Regions from separate parts of the Homo sapiens genome. Here region 2 is linked to region 1. The links come from fine-mapping of genetic effects on gene expression. A gene starts in region 1. The other region holds a variant in brackets. All regions are shown on one strand. Distances are from middle to middle.

What was found.
Region 2: its variant is fine-mapped to the expression of WNT3 in ileum (GTEx, PIP 0.92).

The regions. Positions count from the first base shown.
Region 1 is chr17:46,815,787-46,821,158 of GRCh38, reverse strand. WNT3 (Wnt family member 3) reads left to right here and starts at 2,467. Exons shown (of 5, transcript NM_030753.5): 1 at 2,467-2,641. The coding sequence starts at 2,562. It also overlaps a transcript of LRRC37A2 not described here. RefSeq lists an enhancer at 825-1,412.
Region 2 is chr17:46,383,819-46,389,190 of GRCh38, reverse strand. It overlaps a transcript of LRRC37A2 not described here and the pseudogene NSFP1. Among named protein-coding and RNA genes, the nearest start is that of ARL17B, 25 kb to the right of the region's middle. The variant C/T (reference allele first, on the strand shown) is at 3,115.

The DNA.
Region 1 (5,372 bases):
TGCACATGACCTGCGTCTGAGTTCTCCAGGCTGCCTGGAGGAGGCATTCAGGTACACATGACCCCTCAGGGAATGATGTTCTTGCCCACAGCACCCAGGATGCTGGCTGGGCATATCTCAGCCAACACACACTCCCACCGACAGCCTCGGATCTTTTGCTCCCACCTCACAGGGTTGGCACCTGTGGAGTCTTGAGGCCCAGTAATGACCCCAAGAAGCCATCAAGTCCAGGCCCTGTCGCCCCACCATACTGCATCCACAGTGGTGTCTGAGTGGCCAGGGAAGGTAGCCCTCCCCAGCTCTCAGCACCACTGTCATGGGGCTCTGGAACTCCCGAGCCCTTGGGCAGGACTCCAGCAGGCAGCTCTGATCAGAAAGCCACCTGGGAGCCCTGTGGGTGGGACAGGACTCCAGGTAGGACCTAGCAGGCCTCCATCCAAGAGGGAGGTATGTGGAAAGCTCTCCACTGCCAGAGCCTTGGTCCTGAGGCTCTGCATTCATGGCAATGGTAACCCTCTTTCCAGGTGAATCAGAAACAGGGCACCCCAGAATCAGCCCAGCCATGAGGAGCATCTCTAGGGATCCCCATCTCTGCAGCCCCCACCAGGTTCACCACTCCTGGTCAGGTTCACGATTTTTCTTCGCCTTGCAGCTCCTTGGTGCTCTCCGCCTCCCCCCTGCCCCTTTCTTCCTCACACCGGTGGCTCAGCCTCCCCCCGACAGTTTTCTTGGTTTCTGTCTCAGCGTCTCTCTCATCTCTGAGCCCCTCTCTCTCTCTCCTCCTCTCGGATTCTCCTTTTCCTCCCCTTCCTTCCTCTCTTTCAACCTCCCCTCCCACCCCCTCCAGTCCAGCAATGGGCTGGGAACGCAGCAGGAGCCATGACAAGCCCAGGCGGCTCTCCCGACCCTTGGTGCCCCCGAGGCCATTTCCCCGCGCTCCCTGTGCCGGCAGCAGCCGCGTGCGGAGAGGGCTCGCCGACCAGAAGGGGCAGCAGGTTGGAGCTGTGGGTACGGGGGGCTCAGATCAAAGGCCAGGAATGTCTGGCCCCCTGGCGTAAGACTTCCTTCAGCCATGGCCCTCACCTCGTGGAACGCCCGCCGTTCCAGGCCTCTGTGGGACTCGGGTCGGCTCATTCTCTGCCCTTTCTGCCACAGTTCCCTACACAGCGGTCCCTGCTCCCCACCGGCAGTGCTTCCTTCACCCCAGACCGGGGCTGCGCAGAGTCCTGGTGCCTCAGGTGGCCTGGGAGGGGGCCTAGGGAAAGGCACCCAGGTGACCGGGCGTGAGTCCCCAAAACCTGACCATGATGTCAATACCACCCAGGGCTGAGACCTAATTCCTCGCTCTGGAGAGGGAGAGGAGAGGAAGCAAGCCCGAAGGGGGCCTGGAAGGACTCCTTTCCTGTGGGGAGGGGTGGGTAACTGGAGGCATTTGGTGTCCGCACAGGGCAAGGGCCTTTATCGCCAAACCCCAGGCTGGAGCTCCCTATCAGTAGAACCGGGGCCTCAGGCGGGACGGTCGGGCAGTGAGGGGCGCTCCGGAGGGCAGCAAGGTCTTCCAAGGACCTGGGCCGCCCTCGGCCAGAGCTGCGCGTTTCACCGGTCCCTGATGGTCCAACCGAGAATCCCACTGAGGCTGTGGGTCACGCCTCCGACCCGGGCCAGAGGTCGGGCCTGAACCCCTCAAGGAGGAGAAAGTGACCCGACTCCGAGAGCAGGAAATGCGACTGGCCGCTGGTGTCAGTTGCAGGAAATGCAAAGGCAGCAGGAGGTCCCGATACCGATCTGATCCCTGACAAAAGACTCAAATGACACTCGGCTCCGTCCCCCGGCGCCGCCCGCAGCCAGACCTTCGAGCCTCCGCGGACTTTTCCGCACGTTCCTCGGACACCCGGGAAGTGACCTCCCGCGGCCAGGACGAGAGGCCAGAGAGCGGGCGGACTCGGGAGGCTGGAAGCTGGGAGGGGGTGCGTTCCCCCACCCTCTGATCCTGACCTGCCCGAGCGGGGCTTCTGGAAACATCCCTGTGCTTTCTACCCTCGATTCCTCGCGGGCCCACGTCCCAACGGGTCACGGTCCCCGCCAGCAAAGGAGCCACCCGTTCATGCCCACGCCAAGCCCTCGCCATGTGAACGCCCGGGTCAAAGCCCCCGCGCCCTAACCCTGGCCAGCGGGGGACCGCGGCGGTAGCAGAGGGTCCGGCCCACCGCGTCCCCCCGAAGCCCCGCGGCGTCCGGGGCGCGGGCTTTGCCCAAGTTTGCTGGGCGATGCCCTTCCCGGAGCCCGAGTTGTGGGCCGGGCGGGAGGGGCGCGTGATTGACAGGCTGAACTACAGACTCATCTCTTACCTTAGGCCGCGGGCGCTGATTGGCTGCTCGCTGACATCCTCAAACCCGGCTGCTCCGCGCTGGGCTCGGGAGGGGGGCGGCTGCGGGTGGAGGTGCGCTTCTGACAAGCCCGAAAGTCATTTCCAATCTCAAGTGGACTTTGTTCCAACTATTGGGGGCGTCGCTCCCCCTCTTCATGGTCGCGGGCAAACTTCCTCCTCGGCGCCTCTTCTAATGGAGCCCCACCTGCTCGGGCTGCTCCTCGGCCTCCTGCTCGGTGGCACCAGGGTCCTCGCTGGCTACCCAATTTGGTGGTAAGACTCGCCTCTTGTCTGCCCGCGGCCCGGTTTCTCCGCCGCGTCCGGGGAAGGTGGGGGCGCCGGCTGGGGGTGGGCCGCTGCAGGGCTGGGGCTCCTCTCCTCGCCTCCCTCCAGCCCCCCACCCGCCCACCCCTCCTGGATTTTCTGCTGGTGTCGCCTTCAGAATCCAACTCCTGGCTCCTCTGATAATCACCATTTTCCCTGCTCCCCGCTGCAGGGGCTGGAGGACTTTTCCCATCTCAGAAGGTTTCTTATTCTTAGATCCTAACCCTCTGCCCGTCCCAATCTAGAGGCCCCCGAAGACCCCCCATTTGCTTGCAGTTGGGTTTCTGGAAATCCAGCACTGTCCCTGGGGCCCAGCCACTCCTCTTCTCCATTTTGGGGTCTTCATGGGCAAAACCATCCTGTTCCTTCACTGCCACCCCACCTCTGCCGGCGCCTCCATCAAGAGATTCCCCATAATAACCCCCCTTTGCCTTCCTATTTCAGACCCCAAAGGCTTCAGGGCTCCTCCCGGGGCAGGGGAGTGGGTGGGGGGATTTCATCAGATTCTCCCCACCGCTCTAGATTCATCTTGAGCCTCTGAAGTGAATATGGTATTTGCTGATCCGGGATGCCATTGAATTCGGATTTTATTCATTTCTTGCTTGTCCACCCTGGCAAAAGGGGGGTTCCTTGAAAATGTGTTGTCTGGGAGGGGTAGGCTTGTTGTTCTTTGACCAAAAATCCAATTCTCCATGTCACATTTCTTCCTTTTGGAAAACCGAGGACCGAGGAGAAAGGGAGAGGGAAGGGAGAATTCCGTCCCTGAGAAATGTGGATACAAAAGACATTTTAGTAAATAAGACTGGGAAGCCGGGAGCAGTGCTTGGGGGGGGCTGTGCGTGTCTGGGGGGCCTGGGTGAGGAATAAACATCGCTTTGGGAGCCCCAGCTCCAGGAGTCCCCTTGTTTTCCGAGCGGCCCCATCGCCGCTCTCCCACCCTCCGCAGGTCCCAGGGGCCAGAGGGGAAGACACTGAAACCAGTTCTCTAAATTACACTCCGCCTCTCCCCAGTCTCCAGCCCCCTACATTCCGGAAAACTTTAATTAAAGAATCTTCCCCTCCTGGACATAGGAGAGCCTTGGCCTGGGCGGGGGGAGGTGAGGAGGAAGAATTTGGGATCTGTGAGTGAGAAGTGGGCTGTGGCCCCCGGGGTGAAAGTCAGAAAGAAGTGCCACCACGGTGCGGTACCGCCTGCAGGTCCCCAGACTCCCTGCCTTTCGCCAACCCAGAGTCCAGGGTAGGAGGAGCAGAGACAGCGAGACTTGGGGGCCACACCCCGAGTCTTCCAGTTGTTTGGGGATGGCAGCATTTGTGTCTGGGTGTTTGGGGCTCCTGGGAGAGAGGGTGGGGACATGGCCAAGGGTCTCTGTTTAGAGGGTGCTAGGAGTTGCTCCCAGGACAGCCAGCCAAGGGGAAGTCTTTCTTCTGCCCAACCCACACTTTTCCGGGGGGCTGGGCTAACCTGAGGCTTCCAGCACATAAAGAAGTCCATGGGGTGGCCAGGGCAGCCAGGGACTTCAGGAAGGAGGTTCGGCCAGTCTGGGGAAAGGCTGCTGCCAACACCAGTCCAGCCTCACCCGGCCATTCCTGACCCTCTTCCCATTCCCGGGCCAAGGCCATGCCGTTTTTCGCCTTGCTTTCGCAGAGACTCTGGTGGGTTGGGGGAGGGTAGGAAGGAAAGGTTTGGCGGCCCATAGGTGGCAGGGACTGAGGAAGAGAGACCAGTCTCTCCGGCCCTATGAACTAGAAGAGGGCACTCTTCCAGTTGGTGTAGATTCTGGTGTGAAATGGTATCTTGGGGACCATCTAGATAGGGATTGCCCAATAGGAAGAAACGCTGGGGAAACCTGGAAGGTCAAGACATTGGCCCTAACATAATGCTAGACACATGGCTTGTTTGGGAATTTGGTGGGGGACAGGAATGCTGCTTTGTCTAAGCCAAGGAGAGAGGTGTGTGTGTGTGTGTGTGTGTGTGTGTGTGTGTGTGTGTGCGTGTGTTCTGGGTCTATGACCCTAAGAGGTGTTTTCTATACACCAGTGTGTCTCTGTGTGCAAAAGTGTTTGTGCCTGCAACTGGGCTACTATGGATGTGAAATCGTGTGGGCGTGTTGGGGGATCCATGCCCACGACAGGTTGTGCTGTGTGTGTCTGCACACGAGTGTGAGCAAGTGGCTGGTGCTGTGATGTGTGTATGTACATGTGTAAGAGACAGAGAGAAGTCTAGAAGTATCTTTGCCCATGTAAAGGTCAGAGCCTGTGTCTGCCTGTGACGCTGGGCTTGACTGTGTTCATGACTGGGCATGTGAGTGTGTGTGTGCGTGCGTGCGTGTGTGTGAGTGTGTGTGTGTGTGTGTACGTGCGCGCGCATGCCTTCATGACAGTGTGGGGAAAGCCCCACAGATGTCTTTGTGCATGAATATCAGTGCTCATGGCCATGACCTGATTGTGCTTGTAAGGAGGAGAGTGAGCCTCAAGTCCATAGCTGTGTGAGGGCTGTGTCTGAGTCCGCCTGTGATCCTGTCCCCAGGTGCTGGGCCCAGGGCTGTGTGGCTGTGAATATCTTTGCAGACATCTACCTGTGGGTATGAATGACACCTGAGCTTGGGTGTTTGGTGGGCAGCCATGGGCCTGGAGGGAAGGTCCAACAGGAAGCAAAAGTCTCACAAGGTGGCTGCAGGGG
Region 2 (5,372 bases), 430 kb after region 1:
CAGAGTCTCACCCTGTTGCCCAGGCTGGAGTACGGTGGCATGATCTTGGCTTACGGCAATCTCCGCCTCCTGGGTTCAAGTGATTCTCCTGCCTCACCTTCCCAAGTACCTGGGATTACAGGTGTGCACCACCACACCCAGCTAATTTTTGTATTAGCTGGCCATGGCCAGCTGGCCGTGTTGGCCAGGGTGGTCTCGAACTCCTGATCTCAAGTGATCCACCCGTCTCAGCCTCTCAAAGTGCTCGGATTACAGGCGTGAGCCACTGCACCCGGCCTGCTTGCTTTTAAATAATCCAATCTGACATTCTTTGTCTGAATGAAGCATTTAGTCTACCATATATTTGATTTGATTTCTATATTTTATTGTTTCCTCTTTATCTGACCTTTTCTATGTTTTTCACTTCTTCCTTGCCTTTTAAAAATTGTTTTTTCTGCTATAAATTATTCCTAATATTTATATTATTTTAGTAGTTACTCTGAAAATACTAATACACATACCTATCAAAATCTAAAGTTAATTGAATAGCTTTACCTTTCTCTTCAACAGTATAAAGATCATAAAATACTTTAACCACTCTTTTGATTTGGATGTTGTTATCATATATTTAGTTCTTTTTTTTTTTTTTGAGACGGAGTTTTGCTCTTGTTGCCCAGGCTGGAGTGCAATGGCGTGATTTCGGCTCACTGCAACCTCTGCCTCCCAGGTTCAAGCAATTCTCCTACCTCAGCCTCCTGAGTAGCTGGGATTACAGGCATGCGCCACCACACCCGGCTAATTTTTTTTTTTTTTTTTTGTATTTTTAGTAGAGACGAGGTTTCTCCATGTTGGTCAGGCTGATCTCCAACTCATAACCTCAGGTGATCCGCCCACCTCAGCCTCCCAAAGTGCTGGGATTACAGGCGTGAGCCACCACACCTGGCCTATTTAGTTCTATTTTTAAAACCTCCGCATACATCATTTTATAAAGCCAATATTTATTTCAATATATCCACAGATTTACCATTATTCTTTACTCTTCAATCCTTCTTAAATCTCAGACTTTACATCAGTGGTCACTTTTTTTTTTTTTTTTTAGCCTTCAGGAAATTGATCTGAATTTCCACTAGTAGGGAAGGTTTGATGGTTACAACATTGAGTGTTTGTCTGTTTTAAAGTGTCTAATTTTGCCCCCATTCTTCACAAGATATACAATTCTTGGTTGACAATTATTTTCTCTAAGCATATGGAAAATATTACTCCCTGTCTTATGGCTTTCATTATTATAGACAGGAAAACAGCTGACAGCCAAATACTTGTTGAAGGTAATATCTTTTTTCTCTGACAGCTTTTTTTTTTTTTTGAGATGGAGTTTTGCTCTTGTTGCCCAGGCTGGCATGCAATGGCACGATCTCGGCTCACTGCAACCTCCACCTCCCAGGTTCAAGCAATTCTCCTGCCTCAGCCTCCTGAGTAGCTGGGATTACAGGCATGCACCACCACGCCCGGCTAATTTTGTATTTTCAGTAGAGACAGGGTTTCTCCACGTTGAGGCTGGTCTTGAACTCCTGACCTCAGGTGATCCACCCTCCTCGGGCTCCCAAAGTGCTGGGATTACAGGCGTGAGCCACCATGCCCAGCCTCTGACAGCTTTTAAGACCTCTCTATGGTATCATGTAGTTTCTTTAAAAAATGTTTATGTGTGAATTTTTTTTCTTTTTATCCTTTCTGGGATTCTTTAGCTTCCTAAATTTGTAGGTTGTTTTTCATCAGTTCTCTGTCATTATCTCTTCAAATACTGCCTCTGCCTCATTCTTTTCCATGCCCCTGCTCCCCTGCCCCAGAATTCTGACTAGACTGAACCTTCTTATTCTACCCTCTGTATTCTCTTAACTCTTTTATTACTTTTCATTTTCTTGCCTCTATACTGCAATTTTTTCAGATCCACTTTACTAAATCTTTCTTTAGCTGTGTCTAATCTGTTATTAAATTTGTACACTGGTCATTTTTGTATACTTGCTCCTCATTCCTATTTTAAATTTCTTTTTTTCTATAAGCATATTAAATATATGTACTTATAATCTGTGTCTGCTAACTCCAATATGTGAACTCTTTGCAGGTTCTGATTCTGCTCTTTATTGTTTCTGCTTCCTCTCATTCATTGCATCTTATTTCTTTCTGCATTTTGTGAATGTGAGTTCATATTTCTTACAGCTTTATGTTTAGGAATTTTCTAAATCCTAAGATCAAGATGGGTTCTCCCAAGAAGCTTTGTATTTGCTGCTTTTTAGGCATTCTTAGGCATTTTAAGGCATCGTCACTCTTGTACCACTTTTATATTTAATTACTGGCTTAAGATTTTCATACCATCCAGGTAATATAAAATCAGGATTCAAACCTGCATGAAGGTCAGCTTGTGGGTAAAACTTCTCAGGGAATTTCTGTACCCTTCCCATCACCACCAAAGTTTGAGGCAGGAAATTTTTCTTTCCGATCCTTAGACAAGGTACGTTTATTACTAGTTCTCATTTATTATGATGTATAGACCCTTGGGGTACCATCTTTACCAGGAGAGGTGGGACGTTCTACCAGAAAACTACTTTTATCTTCCGTTCTCTGAGCTTCTTGAGGCACAAGCACAAGTTAACTAGGTTTTCCAAGTAATGTCATTTGCAAATAATGTCCTCAAGGCAGCAGTACTTGGCTTATATCTCTGGGTTTTCACCTTCACATAGTTTTTGGCCTGATTATTCCTTACTTTTCAGCCAGCTATCTCCATGCACATAAGGTTTTTACTTAAAAAATATTTCATCTGCCAGGCACAGTCACTCACACCTGTAATCCCAGCACTTCGAGAGGCCCAGGTGGAAAAACTGCTTGAGCCCAGGAGTTCGAGACCAGTCTGTGCAACAAGGCAAGACCCCATCTGCACAAAAAATAAAAAAATTTGCTGGACATGGTGGTGTGCACCTGTGGCCCCAGCTACTCGGGAGGTTGAGGTGGGAGGATCGCTTGAGCCCAACAGGTCGAGGTTGCAGTCAGCCATGTTCACACTACTGCACTCCGGCCTGTGTGACGGAGCAAGACCCTGTCCTCCCTCCAAAAAAAAATTATCTAGAATTTTAAATTGTTTAT[C/T]TGGGAAGGTCAGTCAGAGTACCTAATTCACCATACTGCAGCAAAATAGCCATGCTTTCTTAAAAGTTTGAAAATTGGATATAGATGAAGGTATTAATGGGAAGAAGACGATAACCTTGAAACCTATCAGTAACAAGGTTGAGCACATATTTGGAAAGAAATCTGGAAAAAATATCTTCAACAATTTATAAGGAACTAAATTGGAGAGCTCAAAACACTAAGTGAATGCTTCTCAACTTTAACATACATCAGAATCACCTGGAGAATTTATTGAAAGAGAATGCTAAGCCCTACCCCAGGGTTTCTAAATTAGTCAGCCTGAAGTGGGAACTGAAAATTTGCTTTTCTAACAAGTTCTCAGATAATGCTAATTTGCTGGTCTGCAGAACCCACTATCAGAATCACTGTACTAAGAGAAATAAACTTCATAAAAACAGGAACACTGACAGGTTCATTTCATTACCTTCTACAAAAGAAGAGAAGAAATGTGTGGAAATGAGATTTCAATAACACTCTTGGTCCATCTCATCATTTAACTTATAATTAAGTTAATTTGATGACTGATAAGTAGATTTACTGAAAGGCTATGTATACAAAACAGTTATCAGACTCAATATCTGCAGGTGAAGAAAAAGGACTGGAGTGCAGCAGCTGTTTAAAGCTAGATCTATAATACTAATGATTTAAATAATAGAATAAACAACATTATTTAGAGTATTCAATACCTTGGCAGAGAATATCAAAATTCAAACTACAGACATTGTCAGAAGTGATAATTTACTAAGATGTTCAGAAGCAAATGTCTTGTTCAACCATTCAAGAATCATAATATCCCCACACCAGGCTCTATTCTCAGCAATGGGAACTGTCTGCTATGGTTCACAAAATTATATCAATATTATTCTCTAGGAGAAAAATAGGATAATTAAATTTAAAAATTTGACACAGAGGTTCATTGGAAGACTCAGAATTAGTGATAATTGGTAGTTTCATTGCTTGTCAAAGCAACTACAAAAATATTTGTCAGCACATAACACTAAAAACACTTCACAATTTTTTTTAAAAACCCACCAATGCAGCCCTTAAAGTTTTTATTATGTGGTGATTTTAAAAAGAAATGAATCTTGCATTTCAAAAATGACTTCTTACCTGAAATTAATAATTTTCCCATTTCCTCCTCCACCAAAGATCTATACAGCTAGTGCAAATCCATCAGCACTTTAACATTTCTTTCTGAATTTAGCAAAAGACCAAAATACCCTGCATTACTCATAAACAGCTGATGCTAATTGATTTGGTTTCAAATCTATAGAGCACAAGTTGTGAGAAATTAACACTTTCAGCTTAAAGTCAAAGAAAAGGAGATCAGGTTAATAAAGTTATTGAGCTGAATTTTATTGAAGTGCTCTCTGTGTCTACTCTTATAAAATACAAGAGGAAAAATGTAGGTCAAAAATCCATAGCGGAAGGTTAAAAGTGTCTTTAAAACAAACAAACAAAAAACTGTCTCGTTCTGTTGCCCAGGCTGGAGTGCAGTGGCACGATCTCAACTCACTGCAACCTCCACCTCTTGGGTTCAAGCTGATTCTCATGCCTCAGCCTCCCAAGTAGCTGGAATTACAGGCGTGTGCCACCATGCCCGCTAATTTTTGGTAGAGACAGGGTTTTGCCATGTTGTCCAGGCTGGCCTTGAACTCCTGGCTTCAAGTGATCCACCCGCCTCAGCCTCCCAAAGTGCTAGGATTACACGTGTGAGCCACCATGCCAGGCCAAAGTGTCTTTTTTTTTTTTTTTAAAGGAGTGGGGATTAAGTTGTTCCCAGAATTCGTACGGAAAAGAGCCAAGAAATGCCAAATTAAGAAAGGTAATGAAAGTACGCCCTATGAAATAACAAGAATAATTTTAAAGCTACAGCAATTAAAACAGTGTTATTGATGCAAATATGGACAAAAAGAATTATGAAACGGAATAGAGTCGACACTTAGACCCACACGTATATGGGAACTGGATATAATACAGAGATAGCATTGCAAATCAGTAAAGGAAAAAAATGGACTCAATAAATGATATTGAGACAACTGGTTATACATATGGAAAAGATAAAATTAGTTCATAATTCACACCAAACACAAAAATAAATTCCTGATCAATCACCAAAATGTGCAAGGCAAAATTTTAAAACTTTTATAAGAAAATGACTTCAGGGTGGAGAAAGATTTCCTGAAAAACACATAAAAGCACAAATCACCAAGGTAAAA